7 linked regions of the Homo sapiens genome follow. The protein of the gene in region 1 purifies or fractionates together with the protein of each later gene. This does not show direct contact. Each region holds a gene or a part of one and is shown on either strand. Other genes may lie near its edges. The genes, in order: ZSCAN31, BBX, PNPT1, TRMT1L, PDCD11, PIP5K1A and NOL8.

Region 1 (3,500 bases):
TCCCAAACTCATCACCCTTATGGTCTCTCTCCAGTGTGGATTTTCTGATGTTTCTTAAGAAGTGTCCGCTTACTAAAGAGTTTACTGCACTGACTGCACTGATAGGGTTTCTCACCAGTGTGGACTCGGAGATGCTGGAAAAGCCCTGCATTCTGAATGAAGGCTTTGCCACACTCACGACACTGATAGCGCTTCTCTCCAGTGTGTATCCTCTGATGCTGAACAAGGCATGAGCTGAGGAGGAAAGCCTTCCCACACACTTTGCATTCATATGGTTTTTCCCCTGTGTGGATTCTTCTGTGTCGAGTGAGGCCATTGCTGGCACTGAAGGCTTTCCCACACTCCTTACATTGATAGGGTTTCTCTCCAGTGTGGCTCCGCCGATGTTCATTCAGGCTTGACCTCCGGCTGAAGGCCTTCCCACATTCTTCACATTCATATGGCTTCTCCCCAGTGTGGATTCTCTGGTGCTCAATGAGTACTGAACTCTTAGTGAAGCTTTTCCCACATTCATTGCACCTGTGGCGTCTCTCTCCAGTGGAATGTGCCTGCTGCTTTTCTGCCTTGCTGTCTCGTTTACAAGTTTCTCTGTACTTAGAATCCAAAGATACATCTCTTTGGAGTTTGCTATCCCCCAAATGTTCCATTTCTTTTAAGATTTCTTGCTTTGATGCCAACTCCTGGTTCTCAGGTATACTTTCACCATCTGGAATAATAAATGGACCAAACAATGTAATCTCTTTCCTTTATGAAAGAATACAATCATAGGATGGAAATAGAAAGATCGATATCAAACAGACATGTTCTAGGAATGAAGAACTGTCAGTTAAGGAGCAGGTTGGGTTAAACAGGGATGTTTAGGCTAGTAGAGTAAGGGGTCATCAGCACTGCTAAAATGGCTGGAGGGAGCACCCAGAGGCTCCCAGTGAGGATGTACATAAGCAGGCACTATATTATATTCATTACAAGGCAGGCACTGTTCTAAGTGTTTTACATATGTTAACTTTTTAAATCTCAAATGACTCTGTGACTGAAGTGCTATGATTATCCCCACTTCAAATATGCATAAACTGAAGGCACAGGGAGGTTACCTGACTTGTCCATTGTCACAGAACTATTAAATGCAGCGTTTAAATTCCAACCCAGGCAATTTAGCCCCAGAGTCCACAGTCTTAACTATCGCCCTATATAGACCCACCAGAGATCTCCTGAAGGGACCTGTCAAAATCCTTACCTTGTTCTTGAAATTGGTGGAGGCAAAAAGATTCATATCTGAGCTGTGTCACCATAGGCTGAAGCTGTATGTCTGTTGGTTCCTGCTTGACCTTCAGATGTTCCACATCCTCCAAGAGCACTTCAGAATGTCCATGTTCATGGTCTGGAGCCTGAAGGCAGGTAGGCATATTTGGTTAAAGAGGGGGATTATAGGAGTACAAGCTAATACTAAATGAAAGATATCACATGGAACTATATGAAACATTTTCTAGAGAGATGTCACAGTGGAAGGACCAGAGTTTAATTCATTACCCAAAAGCAAAACAGGGAAGAGTGGCCCAATCAAGTGTGGTGGTTTAAAATAAATCCACCAGGTAGAATCTAACTGCCCATCCCCAACCCCCTGAATGTGGGCTGTACTTGATAGCTCAACTCTACTGAATAGAAAGTGAGGCAGACGAGATGGTATATAACTTCTGAGTCGTAAAAAGTATCAGAGAATCTGTCCTGATATTCATGTAGGTTCTTTTCTATTTTCCTTAAGCGTCAGCCAGCTTGAGAAATAAAGGGACAGAGTACAAAAGAGAGAAATTTTAAAGCTGGGTGTCCAGGGAAGACATCACATGTCAGTAGGTTCCGTGATGCCCCACAAGCCACAAAAACCAGCAAGTTTTTATTAGGGATTTTCAAAAGGGGAGGAAGTGTGCGAATAGGTGTGGGACACAGACATCAAGTACTTTACAAGGTAATAGAATATCACAAGGCAAGTGGAGGCAGGGTGAGATCACAGGACCACAGGACCAAGGCGAAATTAAAATTGCTAATGAAGTTTCGGGCACCACTGTCATTGATAACATCTTATCAGGAGACAGGGTTTTTGAGATCAACCGGTCTGACCAAAATTTATTAGGCGGGAATTTCCTCTTCCTAATAAGCCTGGGAGTGCTATGGGAGACTGGGGTCTATTTCACCCCAGCAGTCTCAACCATAAGAGATGGCTACGCCCAGGGGGGCCAGTTCAGAGACCTACCCCCAGGCGCACATTCTCTTTCTCAGGGATGTTCCTTGCTGAGAAAAATAATTCAGTGATATTTCTCCTATTTGCTTTTGAAAGAAGAGAAATATGGCTCTGTTCCGCCCAGCTAACTGGCAGTCAGAATTTAAGGTTATCTCTCTTATTCCCTGAACAATTGCTGTTATCCTGTTCTTTTTTCAAGGTGCCCACATTTCATATTGCTCAAACACACACGCTGTACAATTTGTACAGTTAATGCAATTATTACAGGGTCCTGAGGCAATATACATCCTCCTCAGCTGACAGGATTAAGAGATTAAAGTAAAGACAGGCATAGGAAATCACAAGGGTATTGATTGGGGAAGTGATAAGTGTCCATGAAATCTTTACAATTTATGTTTAGAGACTGCAGTAAAGACAGGCATAAGAAATTACAAAAGTATTAATTTGGGGAACTAATAAATGTCCATGAAATCTTCACAATCTACATTCTTCTGCTATGGCTTCAGCTGGTCCCTCCATTTGGGGTCCCTGACTTCCCGCAACAAAAAAGCACTGTGGCTTTTTCCTTTCTCTCTCTTTCTCTCCTTCTCCTCTCTGGAGGAAGCCACCTGACATGTTGTGAGGGCACTCAAGCAGCCCCATGAAGAGTACCAACATGGTAAAGAACTAAGACCTCCTGCCAACAGCCAGTGAGTAGCTGAGGCCCCCTACCAACAATTGTACCAGTAAACCATCTTGGAAGTGGATCCGCCCACCTGAGTCTTGTCATCAGATGACCATAGTCTTGGCCATTAAGGTTTAGGGGTAATTTGTTACACAACAGAGAACTAATACATATAGCTATAGCCAACCAACCTGTGTCACCAAACCCCACCTTTCATTTAGTATTTAATGTCTAGAAGTCCATCTTTCTCCTCTCACCTGGTTCCCTGGCTCACTAAGCTCTTGTTCCAGATCTTCAACTACAGCCACAGCCTCCTCCCCACTCTCCGGATGGTGCTCCCGCACCCAGGCCTGGAGCTCCTCAGGCAGGATAGTCAGGAATTGCTCCAGCACCAGCAGCTCCAAGATTTGCTCTTTGGTGTGGATTTCTGGCCTTAGCCACTGATGACAGAGTTCTCGGAGCCGGCTCAGAGCTTCTCGGGGACCAGGAGTCTCTTGGTAACAAAACTGCCTAAAAAGTTGTCGGGAGGCTTCTTGGCCAGAAAAGTTGTTCCCTCGAAGGTGGGTTTCTTGGTCCCAGATAGGGTCTTCCTCCACTTTCACA
Region 2 (2,939 bases), on another chromosome or scaffold:
CTACAGGCCCTATGACAATATTTTCATATATACTCTCTTTTCTTCACCACAGCAATGGTATGAGGAGGTATCATCACTATCAATAAATCTGAATTAGGGAGGTTAAAAAAAACCCAATGGTACATGGGTAGAAGAACTGTCTGAATACAAAGTCTATTTGTTGATAATTAATACTGTGTGCATGCATGCGTGTAGTTTCCAAAGGATTAAAAAAAACAACTTAGGAACATTGTATTCACCAAATCTGAGGTGCGAGTTTATACTTAGGTAACACTCTTAATGAAATCGCTTCCACAGTTTTGTCCCAGTTCAGGGAAAGATGGTGTGTTCTGATCACTAGTCCCAGAAGCGCACCCCAGAAGCGTTCACCCAAGTGGCGTACTGAAGCATATCCTCTTCTTCTATTGGGCTGATCATCACTCTACACTTTTGGGAAAAGCAACCAAGGCTGTCCAGACAATGGCAAATCACAGGCAAACACAGTTTAGGGGGACACATCATTCGATGTTCTAAAATAGTTGAAATATCTTACTTTTATTAGTATTTTTCCTACTGTTTTTAGTGAAAATGGTACATTAAAGGCACATACTCTACGGCCAGTAGTGTGAACATAAAGAAATATATTTGAATAATATCTTTAAAATATTTCAAAGTTTTATTAAATATTTTTATTCAGTTTTAAGATCACAGTTAAAGTACTTTAGCATGTTATACACATGACTTACATGTGCAATTTTTAGAAATATCAAATTAGGTATAAGATTTTGAAGAAAGAAATTATATAAATGTGTATATTGACTTTTACTACACATACATCTAAGAAAGCAATAATTCTGTTGTACCATTAAGTGGAAATCATTTATTACATGGCATGTTTACACCAACTCTAAAGAGAACCAAGCCAATTTCTGAAAGCAAAAAAAAAAAATGAGCGATTCAGTCATGCTGAAACTGTCAACAGACTTTAGACCTGGTGGTCAAATGAAGCTGTGGTTAATTTATGACATGTGAGTAAGCAATTCAAACCTACGAGAAGAGTTTATAATCTGGTATGTGGAGTCTCAGGTGATTTTATTCTTTTTTCTGACAAATTCCTGAGAGCAAGAGACTTGTTTAGTGCTAATGAAATGGAGAAAACGTTGCTGAGCCAGTTGCTGAGCTCCAGATCGCAAACCTTCCCTACCCCCCGTTCCACGGCTCTTAGAGCTGAGGCACTCATGTGAGGAGTCAGGGGACATGAGCCCACCCCTCTGGTGGGCCACAGAGCGAAATCAGTGTTAATGCATGAAACATGCATGTCTCTGTGATTTAGGTTAGAGCTTGTGAGGTAAGATTTGCATTGTGGGTGGAAGAGTTTTGAGGCATTGAATTAGATCCTTGTTACTCAGTAACCACCTCTGGCCCAAGTTATCAGGAAATCTTTGGAGGGAGCAGTAATGTTCACAATAACTAGTTCTGTGCATAAAAATCGATTTAAGCACATGATCAGTTTTGACCACTGACTGCAAAAAGAAAACAGCAGCCATATAATTTTTAACCACAAGGTTTCCTCTCTCAATTTAACAGTATGAATCATACCACCATAGATCAAATTTGGCCAGAAGAGGAACCTTTTTTTTTTTTTTTTTTAAAAAAAAGATGCACATTTATATATTTGAAGGAAGGGTAGCACATACAGATGGGGATTATGAGGGAGTCAAATACATTTGTCTTTTTATTCACGCTTGTTGCTTCTTTGTTCTGAAATATAAGGAAGATAAGGTCCTCAGTGAAATGAACAAAGTTGTTTAATATAGAGTATAATAAACTTAGCTATCACTTCCAAACGAAAGTAAAGCAGTCCATCAAACCCTGAATACTTCGCCAGACACATCTGGTAAGATGAACTGAACAACAGCTTCTTTTAAAATTGTAAGTATGCTGTTAGTCAATCTAAATAAGATAATTTTTAAAAATCCAAAAACTCAAAACAAAATCCAAATCTAGTTCTTTGGGAATGCTTGTATAAACAAAAGCAACATCTAATTAACAATTAGTATACTTTTTATAAGGTGCAAAATAAGGAGCTATTTGGGAAAGCTAAGTTTTAATTTCTACCTAGCAGTCACTCTGAATACTTTATAGGTCAAATGTAACAACAGCATTTGCTTCTACTGCCCATTTTCAGCAATACATTGTTCTCTCTGGAGGAGGCAGTTTGTGAAGTCAAAACACTGCAGTGGAAAATAGTGGCACTGAAGGTAGAAGCAAAAAAAGACAAACTTTTGAAACAGGACTTACTGAAATTAACTTTTAAAGCCGAGGTAGCCCATTAGGATTGGCCTTATATGAGGGCTCTGTGGAGCAGTGCAATTGAAGGTGAATCTCCTCAACAGCATCACACCCCGCAACATCCCCTTTACAAATGATGGCTCCAGGCCTCCTGCAATTTCCTTCCTTTTCCCAGATGAAGTGGTGGGTGCTTCTCCTTTGCTGTATGGAATGCCATCCTCCAGCCTCCAGCTGCTCGTCTTCAGAACATTTACGATTCATACAGTAGTTTAGCAGGCAGCATGGTCCCACTGCTTCACATTAATGTCAAATGCCAAACTTGGAACAGAGTTTTTTGGTATTTTCCCTCCCCTCCCCACCTTATAAACAAAACATGGCATTCAGTTTTCAGCTTACTCCTGTTCTGTAGCAATTTGTAATTAGCTTGTGACTTTACATAGGTGCAAACATTTCCATACATTGAGCCAAAGACTGCAGAGTGCAAACAAAATTTTATCTGACTTACAGTAGCATCTGACTTAATAAGAAAACAAAAGGATTTGAACACATTGGATTCTAAATAACCAGACCAGTTCAGATGCTCCTTTTTGTTCATAGTGTTCCATCATTATTTTGTTTCTCCAGCAATTTTAGTGGCAGGAAGTAGAATCACAATGATAACGTGGGAA
Region 3 (3,500 bases), on another chromosome or scaffold:
AAAAAAAAACACATTAAACCGTACTGACAGAGTTGCTTTACAGTTCAAAACGTTTGAACTAATATAGATAGCCATTCAATATGTTTTCAAGAAAAATCCCCTTGGACTGATTTACTAAGAGGGACACAGATAAATGTCAGTGCTTCCATTATTACATACCATGCCCTAACAACAAAAAACAAACACAGAAGAAGCACATTAACAATAAAGATTGGGGAGCAATTTTTCATTCTGGTTCCACAGGCAACAGTTACATATATAAGCAGAGCAAAGAGACTTAAGACCAATAGCAGACCAAAAGAAAATGCTTCCTTGCTACTTTGTGTCTGAAGACTGTATATAAATATACATAAAATAGCAATTTCTGGCCGAGCACAGTGGTTCACGCCTGCAATCCCAGCACTTGGGAGGCTGAGGCGGGTGGATCACGAGGTCAGGAGTTCAAGACCAGCCTGACCAAAATGGAGAAACCCCATCTTGACTAAAAATACAAAAATCAGCCAGGCATGGTGGTGGGCACCTGTAATCCCAATCACTTGAACCCGGGAGGTAGAGGTTGCAGTGAGCCGAGATCGTGCCACTGCACTCCAGCCTGGGTGACAGAGCAAGACTCTGTCTCAAAAAAAAGCAATTTCTGGGTAGAAGAGCTATAAATTACATATGATCCCACAATATGTAGGGATGTTAAAGATTTGAAAGATTATGGACATATTTCAGTAGCTGATGAACATAATGTTTAGGAATTACTATTCTGAACATGAAAAAATGTACTAGGAATAGATTCAACAAAGTAGAGGCATGGGCCAAAAAATTCATATGCTCAATAGAGATTTACTCATTTAGTCAACAAATATTTATTGAATGCCTATTCTGTGCTAAGCAGTATAACAGGTACTAGGGATTCAACCCTGAAGAAATAAAAGTTTTTTCTTTCACAGTGCCCACATTTGAGTGAGGGAAGAGAAGGAGTGAATAATCTTAGGTGGTGTTAATGCTATGAAGGAAAACTTAAGACTTATTGTAGAACACAGATGCAAGAGAAGAGATGCTAACATAGGCATACCAGAGAAGATGAACGCCTCTATGTTAATATCTTACCTATTATTCGACTTGTTAGAATTTCTTTATCAGAAGTACCAATCTCTCTTCTCAGATAGTTTGTGGGAATTCTACCTGCTGCAGCAGCTTTTTGTCTGTAGTCAACCTGAAGCAGCAATAAAAAAAAGTTCATATAATTCTTTTTGCAGAAACAAACTATACTGTATGAATGCTAATTCTCCTGAGGTTGCTAACAACACAGTCTAGACTCAGAGTAGAAAATGTTATTTACTTAGCATTTTGTATCTTTTGGGGAGAGGAAAGTTGATAGAAATGTTTCTGCAAAGTGATTTTAAAAAACGTTCAGGTGCAGTGGCTCACGCCTGTAATCCCAGCACTTTGGGAGGCCAAAGCAGGAGGACCACTTGAGGCCAGGGTTTTAGAACTGCCTGGGTAACACAGAAAGACCTTGTCTCTACCCCCAACAAAAAAAAAATTAGTTGGGCACAATGGCCTGTGCCCATAGTCCTAGCTACTCAGAAGGCTGAGGTGGGAGGATTGCTTAAGCCCAGGAGTTTGAGGCTGCAGTGAACTATGATCACACCACTGAACAACTCTAGCCTGGGTGACAGAGCAAGACCCTGTCTCTTAAAAAAAAAAAAGTCTTCTACTCAACAGTAAAAGTGGAAGAAGACTCACTATTTGCCACAGATGCTCATTCTGATCAAGTCAAACATTGCTTTTTTTTGGTATCAACTCTGTTAAATATAATTGTACACCCCTTTTCATAATAGAAGGGAGCTATAAAATTCTCATGAGCTCATTACTAAATATACACAGTTGTCTCTTGGTATCCCTGGGGGATTGGTTCTAGGACCTCTTGCAGATATCAAAATCCATGGATGCTCAAATCCTTGATGTAAAACACCATAGTATTTGTTTATAACTTACGTATATCCTCTCATATACTTTAAATCATCTCTAGATTACATATAATCCTTAATACAATGTAAATTCTACATAAATAGTTTTTATACCGTATTGCGTAGGGAATGACAAGAAAAAAAGTCTGTACATATTCAGTACAGATGCAATTTTTCCCCCAATATTTTCGATCCATGGTTGGTTGAATCCATGGATGCAAAACCCAAGGACATGGAGGGCTGACTGTACTTGCAGAGTCATACTGAAGGGAAACTATGAGGGCAATGAATTCATTGCTTATTCAATGTCAAAGTACTCATGCACTTCCAATCTTCTTGTCAACTTACGCACCTGGACGTTCCAAATTCTAAAGTATGCTTAATCCTAGTATTTGTTTATGAAGCAGTTTATACTCTTTTAATGAATCAGTATCAAAAAACTAGGAAAAATTCTTTGTTGTGCAAGTTTGTATTTTCCACTCACTAGACACTGGACAAAAATATTATACATTCTACACTTTACTCAGACCATATTACAGTTCAGATAAATCAGCAAATACTTACCACCAAAGGCATAAACTGGGAAGGGGAAGGTTTTGTTTTACTGACCGCTGTGACCATTACTGCAGTGTCACCTGACTTAAACATAAAGAACAACGCTGGTAAGTTCCTTTGAAATCAGATATTAGCATCTAAGTAGCAACTGAATAAATCCTTACTCCAATTAAACTCAAGAAAAGATATCTAATTCTACGACACGATTATGAAATAAAAAATATTCACAAGTAGTCCAATCTTGATCTCTGAGCTTTTCAAAAGCTATGGAATCAAAATAAGGAAAGATTAACAGGTAATTTAGTCATATTCAATGAATTGAATAGTATTCTCTACTTCTTATGTGGCTATACATAAGGAAAAATTCCCCAATTATTACTATAGAAGAAAATACCAAAATCACTTTCTCTAGAAAAGCACAACAGAATTTATTAACGCATAAAACAGAAGCCCAAGTTTGGAAAGGATGTTAAACGTCACTTAATACGGCTGGGCACGGTCGCTCACACTTGTAATTGCAGCACTTTGCGGGGGCAAGGCAGGTGGATCACGAGGTCAAGAGATTGAGACCAGGCCAGGCGCGGTGGCTCACGTCTGTAATCCCAGCACTTTGGGAGGCTGAGGCAGGCGGATCACGAGGTCAGGAGATCAACACCATCCTGGCTAACACGGTGAAACCTCGACTCTACTAAAAATACAAAAAATTAGCTGGGCGTGGTGGCAGGTGCCTGTGGTCCCAGCTACTAAGGAGGCTGAGGCAGGAGAATGGCGTGAACCTGGGAGGCGGAGGTTGCAGTGAACCGAGATCGCGCCGCTGCACTCCAGCCTGGGCAACAGAGTGAGACTCCATCTCAAAAAAAAAAAAAAAAAAGAGATCGAGACCATCCTGGCCAACATGGTGAAACCCCGTCTCTACTAAAAATACAAAAATTAGCTGGGTGTGGTGGTGCACGCCTGTAGTCCCAGCTACTCGGGAGGCTGAGG
Region 4 (4,065 bases), on another chromosome or scaffold:
TAGTGCTTCAAAGTGCCAAATAATCATGCTATCTCTTCCCCGGGGTTCTGAAACAAGTAGGAAACAAATAGACCAAGAAGATTGGCGTTTATCAACTTAATTAACTAAGAAAAGCTAACTGGAAGCGCGCGTCTTGTTCTTGAGACTAAATTGGGCTTCCCTCTCCTGCCCTGATGCCTAGAAGGTTCGGACCAAGCCCAAGCAGGGCAGCCAGAAAGTTCACGTTTTTCTCCTTTCTGTCCCAGTGGATTTATCGCGGGGGGACAGAAGAAAGAAACAAGAAAGGCTCGAATGTCAAGTAGGCACTAAGAGTGAAGGGGAGAGAAGTACGGGGGACAGGGGACTCGCTAGCATATGTTTTGGGGATCTGAAACGCATCAAAATTAAATGCCCCGAAGCTCTACCCACTCAGAGCTCTGGTTATTAAAAGCCTGAAAACAAAGCAAAATAGAGCAAAACAACTAATTTCTATCCACTGGCCACACCGCAGAACTGCTGATACTGGCAACATGAAGACTAAAGCAAAAATAAAAACAAAGGAAAAGAGTGTTCGGGTCACGGTGTAGGTGAGGGTGCGAAATGAAGAACAGACCCTAATTCCAAGTCAGCTGGATGGACAGGCAAGCTCGTCAGCTGCTAGTAAACCGCCGCGGGCCCGCGGGCTCCGCACGAACCGACCAGACCCCAACACCGGGCAAGGGGCAGCCCCGGAGGCAAGCCGGGCCAGAACCACACCCTCCACGGAGCTGGCTCGTCCCCGGACCCGCCCACAGAGTCGCCCCGCCCAGGTCCGTGTGACTCCTGAGTCCCCAGTCCGGCCGGCCGCCCGCCCGCCAGTATACTTGGGGCGGGGGACGAGGGGGAACCTGCCCAGCAAAACGTCAACGCACCCCGCAGTTCCTACCTTACCAGCGCCGGCGGCAGTGGCAACTCCGGAGCCCCAAGCCAAAGGAGAGGGACCCCCGCCTCCCAACACACACACACACCCCGCCCCACCAACTGTATGCCTGCTGGGAAACGTAGTTCTGCGCCCGCATCCGCACTACCTACTCACCGCCCCACAGCGCTCGCTTAGATTTGCATTTACTTCCTCCGAGGCTTGAACTCCGGCCCCGCCCCCAGACTGCGCAGTGTATCCTGGGTGCTGTAGTCTTTGTTCGGTTTGGTGGTTGGCCGGTGGGCCGGAGACGCACCGTAGAAACCGAACCCTCTTACCCAATTGGACGCCGTCCCCAGTACGCTTCTGCGCAGTTTGTGGTGGCGTCGTAACGCCTCGGGGAAAGGGAAGCGGACGGGCATCTGGAATCGCTGCCTCTGGCTTTCTGTTTTCTACTAACAGGATTTGGTCACTGGTTCTTCATCTTTTGTCTGTTGCACGCATCCCGCCCTCCCCACTTGCTTCCCCACTCCTTGGATCCAGCCCTGTGGGCATTCACGTCAGTTCTCTGACCCCGCCGTGAGCCCCGCTCCGGGTCCCCGGGCGGGCTTGGCACGGAGGCGGTAACTATGGAGAATATGGCGGAGGAGGAGCTGCTGCCCCTGGAGAAGGAGGAGGTGGAGGTGGCCCAGGTCCAGGTCCCGACCCCGGCCCGGGACTCGGCTGGGGTCCCAGCTCCGGCCCCGGATTCGGCTCTGGACTCGGCTCCGACTCCGGCCTCGGCTCCAGCCCCAGCCCCTGCCCTGGCCCAGGCTCCGGCCCTGTCCCCGTCCCTAGCCTCTGCCCCTGAGGAGGCTAAAAGCAGTAAGTGCAGAAGGCCCAGATCTTTCTGCTGCAGAAGAGAGAAAGTGCGCCTTGCTGGGAAGTAGGGGAGGCCCTTCACCGGGATGGTTTTTATGGGGCAAGGCAGGTTTAGGAAAATGGTGGGGAGGAAAGAGGGGCCCGTGTAGCGGCTAAAGCAGGGTTACAGAATGGGAGACGGCATCTTCATAAGCCTCGAGGATGTCACGGTGAGGGATATGCGGAGAGCAGGAATGCTGCAGATAGAAGGAAATAATGAGGTTAAGGGCTTTTTCTTAAAAGGGAGTCTTTTTAAGGTACAAAAATAGGAAGTTACACATAATTTGGTAGTTTCCCGCAGTCCAGTCTGCCATGGTTAACTAAGTTCTTTCAAATGTGACATAGTAACCGAGGCAACCTGTTTACGGTAGTAGATCCTAGCTGCCAACATTTCTAAACCATTACTGTCAACTAGCTTTTCTGCTTCGACAGCCACAAGGAGATGAGTTTTTCTCATTTCAGTTTTCTTTTCCCCCGCTAGCAGCTTGCCTCCGAAAAGATTTTGAGGCTGAGTAGTAGTTTAGGAAAGAGTCGACTAAATTTACGGATGTTTTCCCCCATACATAAATACCAATTGAGTTTTGTACTCCATTCCATCAGAAATAGACTGTTGAGAATTAATGGCCCATATTATTGTGCTTCTGAATGTGCCTGCATGTTTTCTAAGTGGTGGTTTATTGGACCATATAGGAATTTAAAAGACTGATGAGTAACACTTTCTTAAGGATCTTCTAACATTTTAAAATGTAAGGTCTAAGAAAGACATAATTTAAGTTCTTTTAACATTTAGTTTGTGGTCATAAGTTGACCTTTATGTGCTTTCTGAATTGGAACTTAAAATAATCTTTAATTCATTATTTTTTCTACTTCTAGGCCAGTTTTGAGTTTAATATTTATAAAAGGTTAGATAGTTATAGATAGGATTATTTTGCAGTTTTGAAACAACATACAAATTGTTATAGATTTCAGAGTAGGGCTAATCACAGGAAAGACAAAAGTCAGAATGCTTCAGGTAAGCCCCTTCTCATTATATAAGATCAGAGCTTGTAGGTACAAAATAAGGCCAGTTGTTTCTTCAACTACAGTGGGTAGGGATCGGGGAGGCATGGGGAGCTGAGAGGGTTCCACCCTCCTAAGTAGCCTCCTACCTCACTTCGAAGTTGTATTTGTTTATATTAGTCAGAAGTGGTTCAGCAGCTTTGGGAAATGCATGCATTCTCTACCTCCTCACCATCAAAAATATGTTAAACATAGAAAAGACTTATCTATATATTCCAAAATTTACAAATATGTAATTTGAAGAAGGTATACTATATGGGAAACTGAAAATGCATTAGTAGGACAAATATGTAATGATTGAGAAGTCTGAAATGCATTAGAACTAATACATATATTAATCACATTTTAAACATTATTTTTAGTTGATCTAGTTAGTCCTTTGAAATCAGTCATAACTAGGTAAGATGAAGATAGCCTATCTGAAATAGAATTGAAAATTGAGGAAAAAGTAATAGAATAAGTTGTAAAAGACCCTCCTAGCATCTTGGAGACATCTAATTTAACAAGAAGTTTGCCTGTTGACTTCTGGATTAATAGTGTGTTACAAAAAGCAGATTGAGTATTTTGCATACAGATTGTCTGATACGCACTATCTTAAACCAGAAGGTGATTTCAGAGATGTTTATAGGCATATCATGCATTTTTAAACAGATCTTCAAGAGTTTCTTCAGTAGTAGACCACAGGATTTTTAGTTTTCTAACTTAACCAAGCTCCTTTCTCTTATTTTGTGCTATTTAATAGAATAATTTCAATAGGCACGTCTTTATTGATTGCTGTTTATCTTGTTTTACATACACAGATCTTTGAACTCTGGAACCAAAAGCCTTTATGGTTACAAATTAGATAGGTTAGTTTGTACACATGGATTCATTTCTGGAATATTGCTGTCTGACCTAGCAAAAGATTTTTATGAAACATGAAGAAGTTTTACCTGTTTATAGAAATTATATCTCATTATAACTCATTTGACCAGTATCTGATATAGGAAATTAACCAATATTGTTTGTTGCTTCTTTAAAAATGAGGTGAATAACCAGGCACCAGCCTATACTCCCAGCTACTCAGGAGGCTGAGGCAGGAGGATTGCTTGAGCCCAGGAGTTTGAGGCTGCAGTGAGCTATGATTGAGCCACTACATTCCATGGAGGCTGGGTGACAGAGCAAGACCCATCTTTAAATAATAATAATATGAAAAATTACCTTTTAATAAATTTGAGCAGGAGTGTCTG
Region 5 (4,230 bases), on another chromosome or scaffold:
CCAGCCTGAGTAACAGAGTGAAACATCATCTCTCCCCATCTCTTGAAAAAACAACAACAAAAATAACAAAAACATCAGCTGGGTGCAGTGGCTCACACCTGCCATCCCAGCACTTTGGGAGGTCAAGGTGAGCAGATCATCTGAGGTCAGGAGTTTCAGACCAGCCTGGCCAACATGGTGAAACCCCATCTCTAACAAAAATACAAAAATTAGTCAGGTATGGTAGCAGGCACCTGTAATCCCAGCTACTCACGCCACTGCACTTCAGCATGGGCAACAGAGTAAGACTTCGTCTCAAAAAAAAAAAAAAAAAAAAAACTGCTTCCTCTCCATCCTTAATCAACATGGCACATGGCAAAGAGTGTCTAAGAACAAGGAACAGCACTTTATTTATTTTGTTTGTGTGTTTTTTGAGACAGAGTCTCACTCTGTCGCCCAGGCAGGAGAGCAGTGGCACAATATTGGGTCAGTGCAACCTCCACCTTCTTGGTTCAAGCAATTCTCATGCCTCAGCCTCCCAAGTAGCTAGGACTACAGGTATACTACCATGCCCAGCTAGTTTTGGTATTAGTATAGACGGGGTTTCACCATGTTGGCCAGGCTGCTCTTGAATTCCTAGCCTCAAGTGATCCGCCTGCCTCGGCTTCCCAAACTGCTGGGATTACAGGCATGAGCCACTACGCCCAGCTAATAACAGTACTTTAATACTAAATGCCAAGCTTCAAAAGATACAGCCTTGTGGTGGTATGGCCTCTCTAAATGAGTTAAATTTATAGAAGTAGACTTCAATGCAAAAAAAATCTGGAAAAATAACACATTCTCAAATAAGGCTCATTTTTCACAAGACACTACAGTAAAAGTTTCCAGTGAGTGTCACCAAACAAGCATACTACTTACATCAAATAAGTTGTCTTGTTCAACTGACTGCTGGAAAGCTTTCTCTGGTTTGTGGATCTTTCTTGTACCTCCTCGGGGGAAGCTTTCTTCCAGGTTTGCCATGTTTGGGTCTCCTAAAAACAATGCAAAGGATAATGGTGACATGTTGTCTTGGTAGCAGATTTCAGAAAGGTGTTATCAACGGGCAAGAGACAGAACGTTCCAGCAATATGCTAGACAACATTCAGGACTACAACATAGATGGTTTAGATGTCAGGCCCGGAATAATCCATACTTCATCTTTCCAAAGGTCTCTGCTTCAAAACCACAAGTCCACCCACCTTCTTCCAGAAAAAGAAGTTATAGATTCAATGTAGCACATACTCACTAAGAAGCTACAGTTAAGTCAGAGATACACTGTAGCTCTACAGATGAATATATAATCCTCTGCCTTCAAAGAACATGCACACTTTTTGGAAGATAAAACAATTATGCAAGTAACTTAAAATGCAAATCAGATTATAAATGATCACAAAGATGTAGGAAGGGATAAGGCAATGTAGGAAGGGATAAGTAAAGGAGGCAAGCTTCATAAAGAAGATCTTTTTTAGCTTAAGGGTAAAAGATGAACAGAAGCTTGACAGGTAGAAAGGGAATGTGAGAAAAGACATGGATGGGAAAAGCCTATTATTTCAATAAACACCAGCAATTTCCCTATCAAACAACTGCTCAAAGGCTTGCTGTTGTCTCTGAGGAATTATTCAACTAGACCACTGGGAGATTAAAGCATAAAAATTGAAGTTAAATTTTAAAGAAGGCCGGGCACCATGGCTCACACCTGTAATGCCAGCACTTCGGGAGCCCGAGGCGCGTGGATCATCTGAGGTCAGGAGTTCGAGACCAGCATAGTCAACATGGCGAAACCCCGTCTCTACCAAAAACGCAAAAATTAGCCGGGCGTGGTGGCCTGCGCCTAGTCCCAGCTACTAGGCAGGCTGAAGCGTGAGAATTGCTTGAGGCCGGGAGGCGGAGGTTGCAGTGAGCTGAGATCATGCCGCCGCACTCCAACCTGGGAGACAAAGTGAGACTCTGTCTCAAAAAAATTAAAGGAGAAGTTGGGCTTTTTTGTGGAAGACCTTGAATTAGATATGGGTAGTTTGCTTTGGCAAGTCAGAGACTTAAGCAGGGAAAGCGAGAGAACAGTAAGCAAGAAAAATATACTGCAGGCTATAGATTGGACATGAAGAGAGACAGTATTGAAGGCAAGTAAATTCGGTAGAAGGATTCAAATGCACTGTTTCCTGTTATCTCAGTGACAGAAAAAAAAAAAAAAAAAAAGGATTCAAATGCAGTACAGCAGAGAAACCATGAGAACCAGAACTGGGTATAAGTGAAAACAGAAGACAGGAGAGGTTAGTTCTGACAGACACTTGGTAATAAGACTCTACAAGGGCTTTAGACTAAAGAAGTGATGACCGGGTGGGGCCAAGGATATGGAATCAGGGATGGGTATATGATTCATAGAAACAGGAAAGTTTGGGGGGTCTAGTTTGCTGATAATTTCACCCTTAATTTCCTTTCAAGCAAGGGGAAACTGAGGCTCTGAAAAGTAAGGCGATCCAGGGGCACAGAAGATACTTAGGCTACTTTCCGAACACAAAGCCTGGGGTTACAGGGGCTGCTACAACAGAGCCGGCTTCGAAGCGGGGCTAAGGTGGCCGAACCACACTCATCTAGCGTGTGCCTGGCAGGGAACCAGGCCTGGGACAGACCTGACAGCCATGAGGTTTCCTCCTTTTTCGCCTCTGCCTTTACTCACCAGCGCCACGGCGTCTGCACCCAGCTACCACTAACCTCGCGCCGCGGTACTCACACACGCGGAGACCAGGATACCCACAGTCCAGTGCAATTCTTCCGGAAGTGTGGGCGGGCTCAACACCCTACTTCCGTTGCTGTGTTGCGGAGGTGACCTAGAGACAGGAATCGGAAGGGCGGGATTTGGAGCCATAGCCAATCGTCGCATTAGGCCGAATCGCGGGGGCCGGCTAAACGCGTGCGGGGGAGGTGGCTTCTTCCGGCCGGGCCGAGAGGTGGTTACATTCGTTGAAGGACACCAGCTGCGGAATTTGCGGCTTTGGCAGGTGGGTGAAGAGGGGAGTCCGGGCTTGGACCTGGCGCCTGCACGTTGCAGGACCGCCCGCCGTTTCTGGCCGAGGAGCAACTCGAGTTCTTAGCTTTGGAGGAGAGAAACGGTGGGGAATGGGAAAGGAGCTAGAAAAAACGAGGGGCGCAAGGGGGCGGCCAGCGGGTGAGAAGCCTCGAGGTGAGGCGGATAGGTGCGCCCAAGGGCTCCCACAGTTTCCGAAGACCCTTAGATTGCATTCGCCAGTGGAGAAAAATGAGGCCCTCCGCGAAGCGTCCCTCGAGGTCACCCAGTGACGTAATATTGGACGAGGACTAGGGCTTCTGATCCCCATCACCGGCCGAATTAACCTCTTTTCTTCTGTATGTCCATAGCTGTTTGTTCCCACCGAGCTGTGCTTTAGGAAGCTGGCCAGCCGGGCCTCCTTTAGGTGCGCTGCAGCCTTTTTCAAAGCGAGTGAATGTGGCCCGGCCCCTACAGTTCGCCAGGCCCGCTGTAAAAGGGTTAGATTTCAGTCTATAGACGATCAGTGGGAAGGCCTTTCCTAGGAGGTAACCAGAACAGAGAGCTGTAAACTCCGTGAATGCAAGAGGCTGCTTCTGTTACCTGAGTGGTTCTCACTCATCTTTGCCTTCCTTACCTCGTGATCTCACCATTCCAGGTAGGTGTTAAGTTAGAAAGGAAAATAGCAATATCGAGGAACAGAGAAAGTAACAAGAGCTACTGGTCACTTTGGACCTTTAATAAAGTGCCCATCTCACAGGTGGAGAGAGGCACGGAAGGATTAGTTACATTTAAGAGCAGTTAGTGGCCGGGCGCGGTGGCTCACGCCTGTAATCCCAGCACTTTGGGAGGCCGAGGCGGGTAGATCACCTGAGGTCCAGAGTTCGAGACCAGCCTGAGTAGTATGGTGAAACCCCGTCCCTACCAACAATACAAAAATTAGCCGGGCGTGGTGGCGCGCGCCTGTAGTTCCAGCTACTCGGGAGGCTGAGGCAGGAGAACCGCTTGACCCCGGGAAGCGGAGATTGCAGTGAGCTGAGATCGCGCCACTGCACTCCAGCCTGGACGACAGAGCGAGACCTTGTCTCAAGAAGGGCAGTTAGCAACTTAATTAAAACATACCACCGTTTAACAACATTAAATCACAACTAGGAGTCTTACAAAGGGCACTGTAAACACAAGGGTTCCTTTATCTTTGCCCTAAAGTA
Region 6 (3,240 bases), on another chromosome or scaffold:
GAGGCTGAGAAGCTACTAGATTTAGAAGCACACTGTTTTAATTAACCATATTTAGCTTCTTGAATACTATAAAATATTTCCCAGTACCCTGCCCTCTTCTGTTTCAATCTCCAGGTGTCGTAGGTACCCTCTAAGATTGCCCCCAATAATCCCTGCCTCCTGAGATCCATGCCATTGTGTAATTCTCTCTCAAGTGTGGGCTGCATTTAGTGATTCTCTTCTCATGAACAGAATGCAGCACAGGAGATGGAATGTCCATTCTGAGATTAGATTACAAAAATACTGTATCTTCTTCTTGGACTCATGCTCTAGCCCCTGCTTGCCTGCTCTGAGGAAAGCCAGCTCCTATGCTATGAGCTGGCTATGGATAGGGCGATGTGACAAGGAACCGAATACTGCCAACAACCATATAAGTGAGCTGAGAAGCTGATCTTCCCTCAGATAAGCTTTTGGACTAATAGCTTGACTGTAATCTCGAGAGAACCCGAGCCAAAGGCATCCAGCTAAGGTACAGAAACTGGGATAACAAATTTTTGTTTTCTTTTTGAGACAGATCTCGCTCTGTCGCCCAGGCTGAAGTGCAGTGGCACTATCTTGGCTCACTGCAACCTCTGCCTCCCGGGTTCAAGCAATTCTCTCGCCTCGGCCTCCTGAGTACCTGGGATTATAGGCACAAATCACCACACCTGGCTAATTTTTCTATTTTTAGTACAGATGGGGTTTCATCATGTTGGCCAGGCTGGTCTCGAACTTCTGGCCTCAGGTGATCCGCCCTCCTCGGCCTCCCAAAGTGCCAGGATTATAGGTGTGAGCCACCACACCCAGACTGAGATAACAAATGTTTGTTTTCAACAGCTAAGTTTGGGGGTAATTTGTTACACAATAATAGATAATACAGACTTTTGTACCTGGAATTGAGGTGCTGCTATAACAAAAATCTAAAATTTGGGGGTGGTGGCCTGGTGCAGTGGCTCATGCCTATAATCCCAGCACTTTGGGAGCCTGAGGCAGGCAGATCATCTGAAGCCAGGAGTTCAAGACCAGCCTCAGCAACATGGCAAAACCACGTCTCTACCAAAAATACAAAAATTAGCCAGGCATGATGGTGCACGCTTGTAATCCCAGCTCCTCGGGAGGCTGAGGTAGGAGAATCGCTTGAACCTGGGAGGCGGAAGTTGCAATGAACCAAGATAGTGCCACTACATTCTAGCCTGGGTGACAGAGGGAGACCCTGTTGGCAGAGACTGCAGTGAACCAAGATCGTGCCACTGTACTCCAGCCTGGGCAACAGAGTGAGACTCCATCTCGAAAAACAAAATCAAAACAAAACAAAACATTGGGGGTGGCTTGGAGGAGCATTTTAGTGAAAAGGTAGTGTCCTGAATATGCTGTTTATAGAATTTTGGACTTAAAGGGGGTTACCAGTGAGGGCTTAAAGTGAGAAAAATTTTATTGGAACTTGAAGGAAAGGAGATCCTAGTAAGGCAGCAGCACAAAGTTTAGCAACAATGTGATTTGTGATTATGTGAGAAGTAGAATATGTGCCTAATGAATTGGACAATCTAGCTACGGAGATTTCCAAGCAAAGTCCTGAAGGTGCCACCTGGTTTTCTCTTGATGCTTATAATAAAATATAGGAGAAGATAAAGAAATTATGGGAAGGACTATTAAACAAAAATGCCAGAACTTGATAAGTTTTGAAAATTCTAAGCCTCTCCAGAGAGCAAACGATGCTAAAATTAAGAAATGGCAGGCCACATACGGTGGCTCACTTCAGGAGGCAGAGGGAGGAGGATTGTTTAAGACCAGCCTGGTTAACACAATGAGACATCTCTACCAAAAAAAAAAAAAAAAAGGCTTTTGAGCAAGGATAAGCTCCAGAGCACTGCCAAGAAAATGTGGTCTAAAGATGAAGGCAAACATATGACTGTGAAACATCTTATTAAGACCTCAGAAAAACAAAAGGTATTGGTTCAGAGTATAGTCATCCCTCAATATCTGTGGGGGACTGGTTCCAGGACCCCTCCTTGAATATCAAAATCCACAATGCACAAGTCCCTTATATACAATGCTATGGTATTTGCATATAACTCACACACATCCTCCATATACTTTATTTTTATTTATTTTTCTTTTGAGACAGGGTCTCGCTCTGTCACCCAGGCTAGAGTCCAGTGGCGCGATTTCGGCTCACTGCAACCACTGCCTCCGGGGTTCGAGCGATCCTCCTGCCTCAGCCTCCTGAGTAACTTGGACTACAGGAACATACCACCACGCCTGGCTAATTTTTTTGTATTTTTGGTAGAGATGGGGTTTCGCCATGTTGCTCAGGCTGATCTTAAACTCCTAGGCTCAAGTAATCTGGCCGCCTCTACCTCTCACAAGTGTTGGGATTACAGGCGTGAGCCATCACGCCTGGCCCTCCATATACTTTAAATCATTCCTAGATTATTTATGATAACTAATACAATGTAAATGCTATGTAAATAGTTGTTATACTATATTGTTCAGGGAATAATGACAAGAAAAGTCTGTACATGTTAAGTACAGGCCTAACTGTACAGTACATATCAGCAACAACATAACATTTTCACGACTTTTTTTTTTTTTTTCAGTATTTTTTCGTTTCTTTCTTTTTTTTTTTCAAAGGGATGGGGTCTCGTTATATTGACCAGGCTGGTCTCAAACTGCCTCAAGCAATCCTCCCACCTCAGCCTCCCAAAGTGGTGGGATTACAGGCATGAGCCACCACACCAGGCTCTCAAGTATTTTCAGTCCACAGTTGGTTGAATCTGGGATGTGGAACCTGTGGATACGGAGGGCTGATTGTGCTATTCAGTCATACAAAAGGCTGTTCAGAAGATTATGTTTCACAGATCCTTTCAACCGAAAAACAGAGTCTGTAAGAAGCTTAGGTCTCATAAAGAAGATATTTATGAGTGTGGCTTTTGTCTAATGGAGTAAATCCCAAGGAGAATCACAGGAGGCCCACAAAATCTTCTGTATCAGTAGAAACACTGCCATCTTGGATCAAAAAGGACAGAAACAGTACAAAATAGAGACCACTAGTTCCCCTAAAATTCTACTGGAAAGAAGCAGCCTGAGAAAAGAACTCAGGTAAAAACACACTCTAGCTTTGATGAAAAAGGAAGACTCAGAAGACAAAACCAAGAGTCTAGAGGGTAGAGCCAAGAACCACGGAGAATTATTCTTCTGCTTTGAGGCCTGATAAAAGAAACT
Region 7 (3,500 bases), on another chromosome or scaffold:
GAAAGAAAAAAAAAGGAAGATTTGGAGCAGCTATCAATCCCAAGTAAACCGTGTAAGATGGTTTACAAAAAACACTGGCTGCTAATTTGAACAGGCAAACTTGGGACCTGCCTGTATTCCTTGCTACCTATGTCCCTTGAAAGTCCACCTCTGCTTGAGTTTTGATTTCTTTCTCTGTAAAATGATGGAGAACTATGCTTACCTAAGAGTTGTAAATGCACCTTGAAAATCATAAAGTCCTATCTATGTTAATTGCCTCCAAGAAAGGGGAAAAGAGTAACTGGTTTTAGACATGACACCCACAATCACGTGATCTCAGGCATCAGTTTCCAAGACCATGTAATTGGCTCAGGCTACAGAGGAGACTCACCTTATGCCCTGGCACTTCTGTCCCTGGCACAGCTTTCATATGGAAATCCACTCCTCCTGTCTTTTCTAACAAGTTGGCGTTACCTGTTGTTGATTCTTCTTTCTTAGCTTTTGCTGCTTCTCTCTCTTGGGCCAATCTGAATCAAAAAGAAAATACAAATAAAAGAGTCAAAATAATCAGCCACGTAAAATGGTTATTTCACTTTAGGTGTGCCTAAATGAGCACTATAAACAGCTTTGTAGTATTAAAAACCAAAATAAAACAAAAATGCTTTCTTAGTAGCATAATAGCTTACCTACTTATCTGAACATACAATGTTTTTATTATAGAATACTGGAAGACAGAACCGTTAAGAAAACAAAACATATTCCTTATCCCTCATCTTGTTAATATTTTGTTTACTTAACTTCATCTTTGTTCTGTATGTAAATATACATATTTTATAATGTAATCCAAATATCATAAGCACAGTTGGGTACACTTCATTTATCAACTTATACGTTCTTTGAAAACATCACTATGATTGCTGTACAACATGCCTTTCCATCAATCTACTGTAGTTTATTGACCAGTCCCTTACCACCAGCAACTGAGCTATACGGTTGGACAGCAGTGACAAGCTGTGCTGTCAGGGCTGTCCCACCAGAGCATGAGGGTTCTTTTCTTAGCCCATCCACTACACTACAGTCAGTCTCCCAAATCCCTGACATGCACGCTTATACCTGTGCTCTGCTCCAGTGGATGTCCCAGTTCCCCTTTATGGAAGACCAAGACCATGGATCGCAAGTTCTCTCAATTTTCCCCTTTCAATTTATATACGTTTGGCATTTTATATTATCTTCTCTCCATTCACTCTTCCCCATGACGAAGGTATCTTTCGGAGCCCAATTTGTTAGGTCTTGATTATCCATATCCTCCTAATGAAGAGAATGCCACCTCTTCTGATTCAAATCACCGCCACCTTCTTCAGGCCTGGACAACTGCACAGAGCAGTCCTCACTGGCCTCTTTGCCTCTGGTCTGTCTCCTTTATGTCCCAGAATAACCATCAGACCCATGCTTCTCAGGCATATCCACGCAGATACTCCAAGCAGCAGCACTGTGTGCTCAACCTGCTCAGCATGGGGCTCTAGTGCCTGTACACAGTAGGCTGGCAACTGCTGCTGGAATGAAAGGTATATAACCACCCTGTTCACAGTCCTAGGCTTCAGCTGAAGAACAAAATCAAATTCTCACCTTTTTCATAAGGCCAGTCCCCCAAAACATGCCTCAAAGTAGGTTGCTTGCCACTCGTTTTAGAATATATCTGTTCTTGTTACATTTCATTGGTCTGGAACAAGCTTATCAACTCTCCTGGTCATTCTACCTGTATATTCTTTTTTTTTTTTCCTTTTTTTTTGTTTGAGACAAGAGTTTCACTCCTGTTGCCCAGGCTGGAGTGCAATGGCACAATGTAGGCTCACTGCAACCTCCGCCTCCCAGGTTCAAGTGATTCTCCTGCCTCAGCCTCCCAAGTAGCTGGGATTACAGGAGCCCATGACCACAACCAGCTAATTTTTGTATTTTTAGTAGAGACGGGGTTTCACCACTTTAGCCAGGCTGGTCTTGAACTCCTGACCTCAGGTGATCCACCCGCCTCGGCCTCCCAAAGTGCTGGGATTACAGGCGTGAGCCACCGTGCCCGGCCTCTATCTGTATATTCTTAAATTGTTTCCTATTTTGAAAACTCCCCAACAATACCTTTTCTTCCTGAAAATACCTTTAGGATTTTAAAAGCTCTAATGGTTTTTATAATACATTGTCTTGCTCTTAAATCACTTGCATAATCACTCTTATGCCTGTCATACAGTGATCTCCTATTTCCTTTATATTTTGGTATGACACTAGCATTAACAGTCAAAATCAACATATGCAATTTAGTAGTCTACTAAAATTTAAATGCAGACAATGCTAAGATTCAGCAACTCCATTTTCTGATATAAACTGAGAGAAACACCTGCATATACATAGGATATGTGCTCCAGGATCATCTATGACCATGAAAAAGTAGAAACAGTCATCAGTGGGAAGGGACCACTACATTGTGGTATAACCATTTTCTGAAATACTACTAACAATTGTTATAAAGGGAGAAGATCTACATTGCCACAAAAGGGTGTGTTAACAAAGAGAAAATAAGTACATATATGCTTTTATAGCTCATTAACAGAGAAAATAAGTACATATATACTTTTATAGCTTATTACATACATACGTAAATGCATGAAATTATCCTTTTTGTTCGTCTGGGGTGAAGGGGATTCAGAGTTGAAAGGGATTTCAGCTCTACTTATATGTTTGAATTTGTTAAGAATATAATACTATATTACTTGATAATTTGAAATAATATATAAAACCACTTACAATATAAAAAAAATAGGGCTTAAATCCATGTGGAGCAAAACTTACCTGTGCAGAAAGCTTTCTTTTGCTAGTTGAATTTGTAATGTTCCACCTTTCCATTTTGTTTTATTTAAAACAGACATACCTATAAAGTAAAGAATTATTACAAGTACATGGCAATGTAAAAATATATTTCAGCTTGTGCTTTTTCTAATTATTTAGTATCAAGAAAAGCAGGCTTGTTTATCACAAAGAGATCCAGGGGAAGTGGAAGAAAAGAAATGAGACCTGGAGAGAGGGAGCCTAGGCTCTTGTTTCATCTTGACAACTTACCAAAAGAGTCTTTACACTCCCTATCTCACAGTGTTACTAGATTGGAATGAGGCAAAATGTGTAAAAAGTAAAGCAAAATTTATTTGCAATTTGTTTGTAAACAAATGTCAGGAACCTCTGAATAACTGATATTTAATGTATATTTTATTGTTATTTCCTGTAACTATAAAACATATATTTCCTGTAACTATAAAACAATCATCTTTTCAGGTGAATCAGAGGACACTCTGGAATCCTACAGCACCTTAATTTTATTTATCACCTCATACTAATTATCACTGTAGAACTTGCAGATGAATTAACTATGAGTGACTGAACTGTTTGAATTACTATGCCGTAGTAATTGATTTCTCTGAGCATCTGCCGTCAGCTTCCTTAATAATACCATTAACAGAATTTTGTAGGTGGTAGATACT

Evidence for each region.
Region 2: the proteins of ZSCAN31 (region 1) and BBX purify together in Homo sapiens (affinity purification with mass spectrometry; 2 studies listed by BioGRID and IntAct, with this or other methods). This does not show direct contact.
Region 3: the proteins of ZSCAN31 (region 1) and PNPT1 purify together in Homo sapiens (affinity purification with mass spectrometry; one large-scale study listed by BioGRID and IntAct). This does not show direct contact.
Region 4: the proteins of ZSCAN31 (region 1) and TRMT1L purify together in Homo sapiens (affinity purification with mass spectrometry; 2 studies listed by BioGRID and IntAct, with this or other methods). This does not show direct contact.
Region 5: the proteins of ZSCAN31 (region 1) and PDCD11 purify together in Homo sapiens (affinity purification with mass spectrometry; one large-scale study listed by BioGRID and IntAct). This does not show direct contact.
Region 6: the proteins of ZSCAN31 (region 1) and PIP5K1A purify together in Homo sapiens (affinity purification with mass spectrometry; 2 studies listed by BioGRID and IntAct, with this or other methods). This does not show direct contact.
Region 7: the proteins of ZSCAN31 (region 1) and NOL8 purify together in Homo sapiens (affinity purification with mass spectrometry; one large-scale study listed by BioGRID and IntAct). This does not show direct contact.

Annotation. Positions count from the first base shown.
Region 1 is NC_000006.12:28,326,149-28,329,648, forward strand, and holds part of ZSCAN31 (zinc finger and SCAN domain-containing protein 31), read right to left. Parts: coding exon 3,155-3,500; intron 1,386-3,154; coding exon 1,235-1,385; intron 707-1,234; coding exon 18-706; 3' UTR 1-17.
Region 2 is NC_000003.12:107,808,901-107,811,839, reverse strand, and holds the end of BBX (HMG box transcription factor BBX), read right to left. Parts: 3' UTR 501-2,939; downstream 1-500. UniProt on the Homo sapiens protein: Transcription factor that is necessary for cell cycle progression from G1 to S phase.
Region 3 is NC_000002.12:55,683,845-55,687,344, forward strand, and holds part of PNPT1 (polyribonucleotide nucleotidyltransferase 1, mitochondrial precursor), read right to left. Parts: intron 2,601-3,500; coding exon 2,526-2,600; intron 1,205-2,525; coding exon 1,099-1,204; intron 1-1,098. UniProt on the Homo sapiens protein: RNA-binding protein implicated in numerous RNA metabolic processes. Catalyzes the phosphorolysis of single-stranded polyribonucleotides processively in the 3'-to-5' direction. Mitochondrial intermembrane factor with RNA-processing exoribonulease activity.
Region 4 is NC_000001.11:185,154,154-185,158,218, reverse strand, and holds the start of TRMT1L (tRNA (guanine(27)-N(2))-dimethyltransferase), read left to right. Parts: upstream 1-1,265; 5' UTR 1,266-1,506; coding exon 1,507-1,741; intron 1,742-1,746; exon of another isoform or gene 1,747-3,684; intron 3,685-4,065. UniProt on the Homo sapiens protein: Specifically dimethylates a single guanine residue at position 27 of tRNA(Tyr) using S-adenosyl-L-methionine as donor of the methyl groups. Dimethylation at position 27 of tRNA(Tyr) is required for efficient translation of tyrosine codons.
Region 5 is NC_000010.11:103,395,196-103,399,425, reverse strand, and holds the start of PDCD11 (protein RRP5 homolog), read right to left. Parts: upstream 2,801-4,230; 5' UTR 2,696-2,800; intron 1,011-2,695; 5' UTR 1,000-1,010; coding exon 898-999; intron 1-897. UniProt on the Homo sapiens protein: Essential for the generation of mature 18S rRNA, specifically necessary for cleavages at sites A0, 1 and 2 of the 47S precursor. Directly interacts with U3 snoRNA. Involved in the biogenesis of rRNA.
Region 6 is NC_000001.11:151,243,552-151,246,791, reverse strand, and holds part of PIP5K1A (phosphatidylinositol 4-phosphate 5-kinase type-1 alpha), read right to left. Parts: intron 1-3,240. UniProt on the Homo sapiens protein: Catalyzes the phosphorylation of phosphatidylinositol 4-phosphate (PtdIns(4)P/PI4P) to form phosphatidylinositol 4,5-bisphosphate (PtdIns(4,5)P2/PIP2), a lipid second messenger that regulates several cellular processes such as signal transduction, vesicle trafficking, actin cytoskeleton dynamics, cell adhesion, and cell motility.
Region 7 is NC_000009.12:92,318,851-92,322,350, forward strand, and holds part of NOL8 (nucleolar protein 8), read right to left. Parts: intron 2,897-3,500; coding exon 2,818-2,896; intron 1,288-2,817; exon of another isoform or gene 1,093-1,287; intron 507-1,092; coding exon 371-506; intron 1-370. UniProt on the Homo sapiens protein: Plays an essential role in the survival of diffuse-type gastric cancer cells. Acts as a nucleolar anchoring protein for DDX47. May be involved in regulation of gene expression at the post-transcriptional level or in ribosome biogenesis in cancer cells.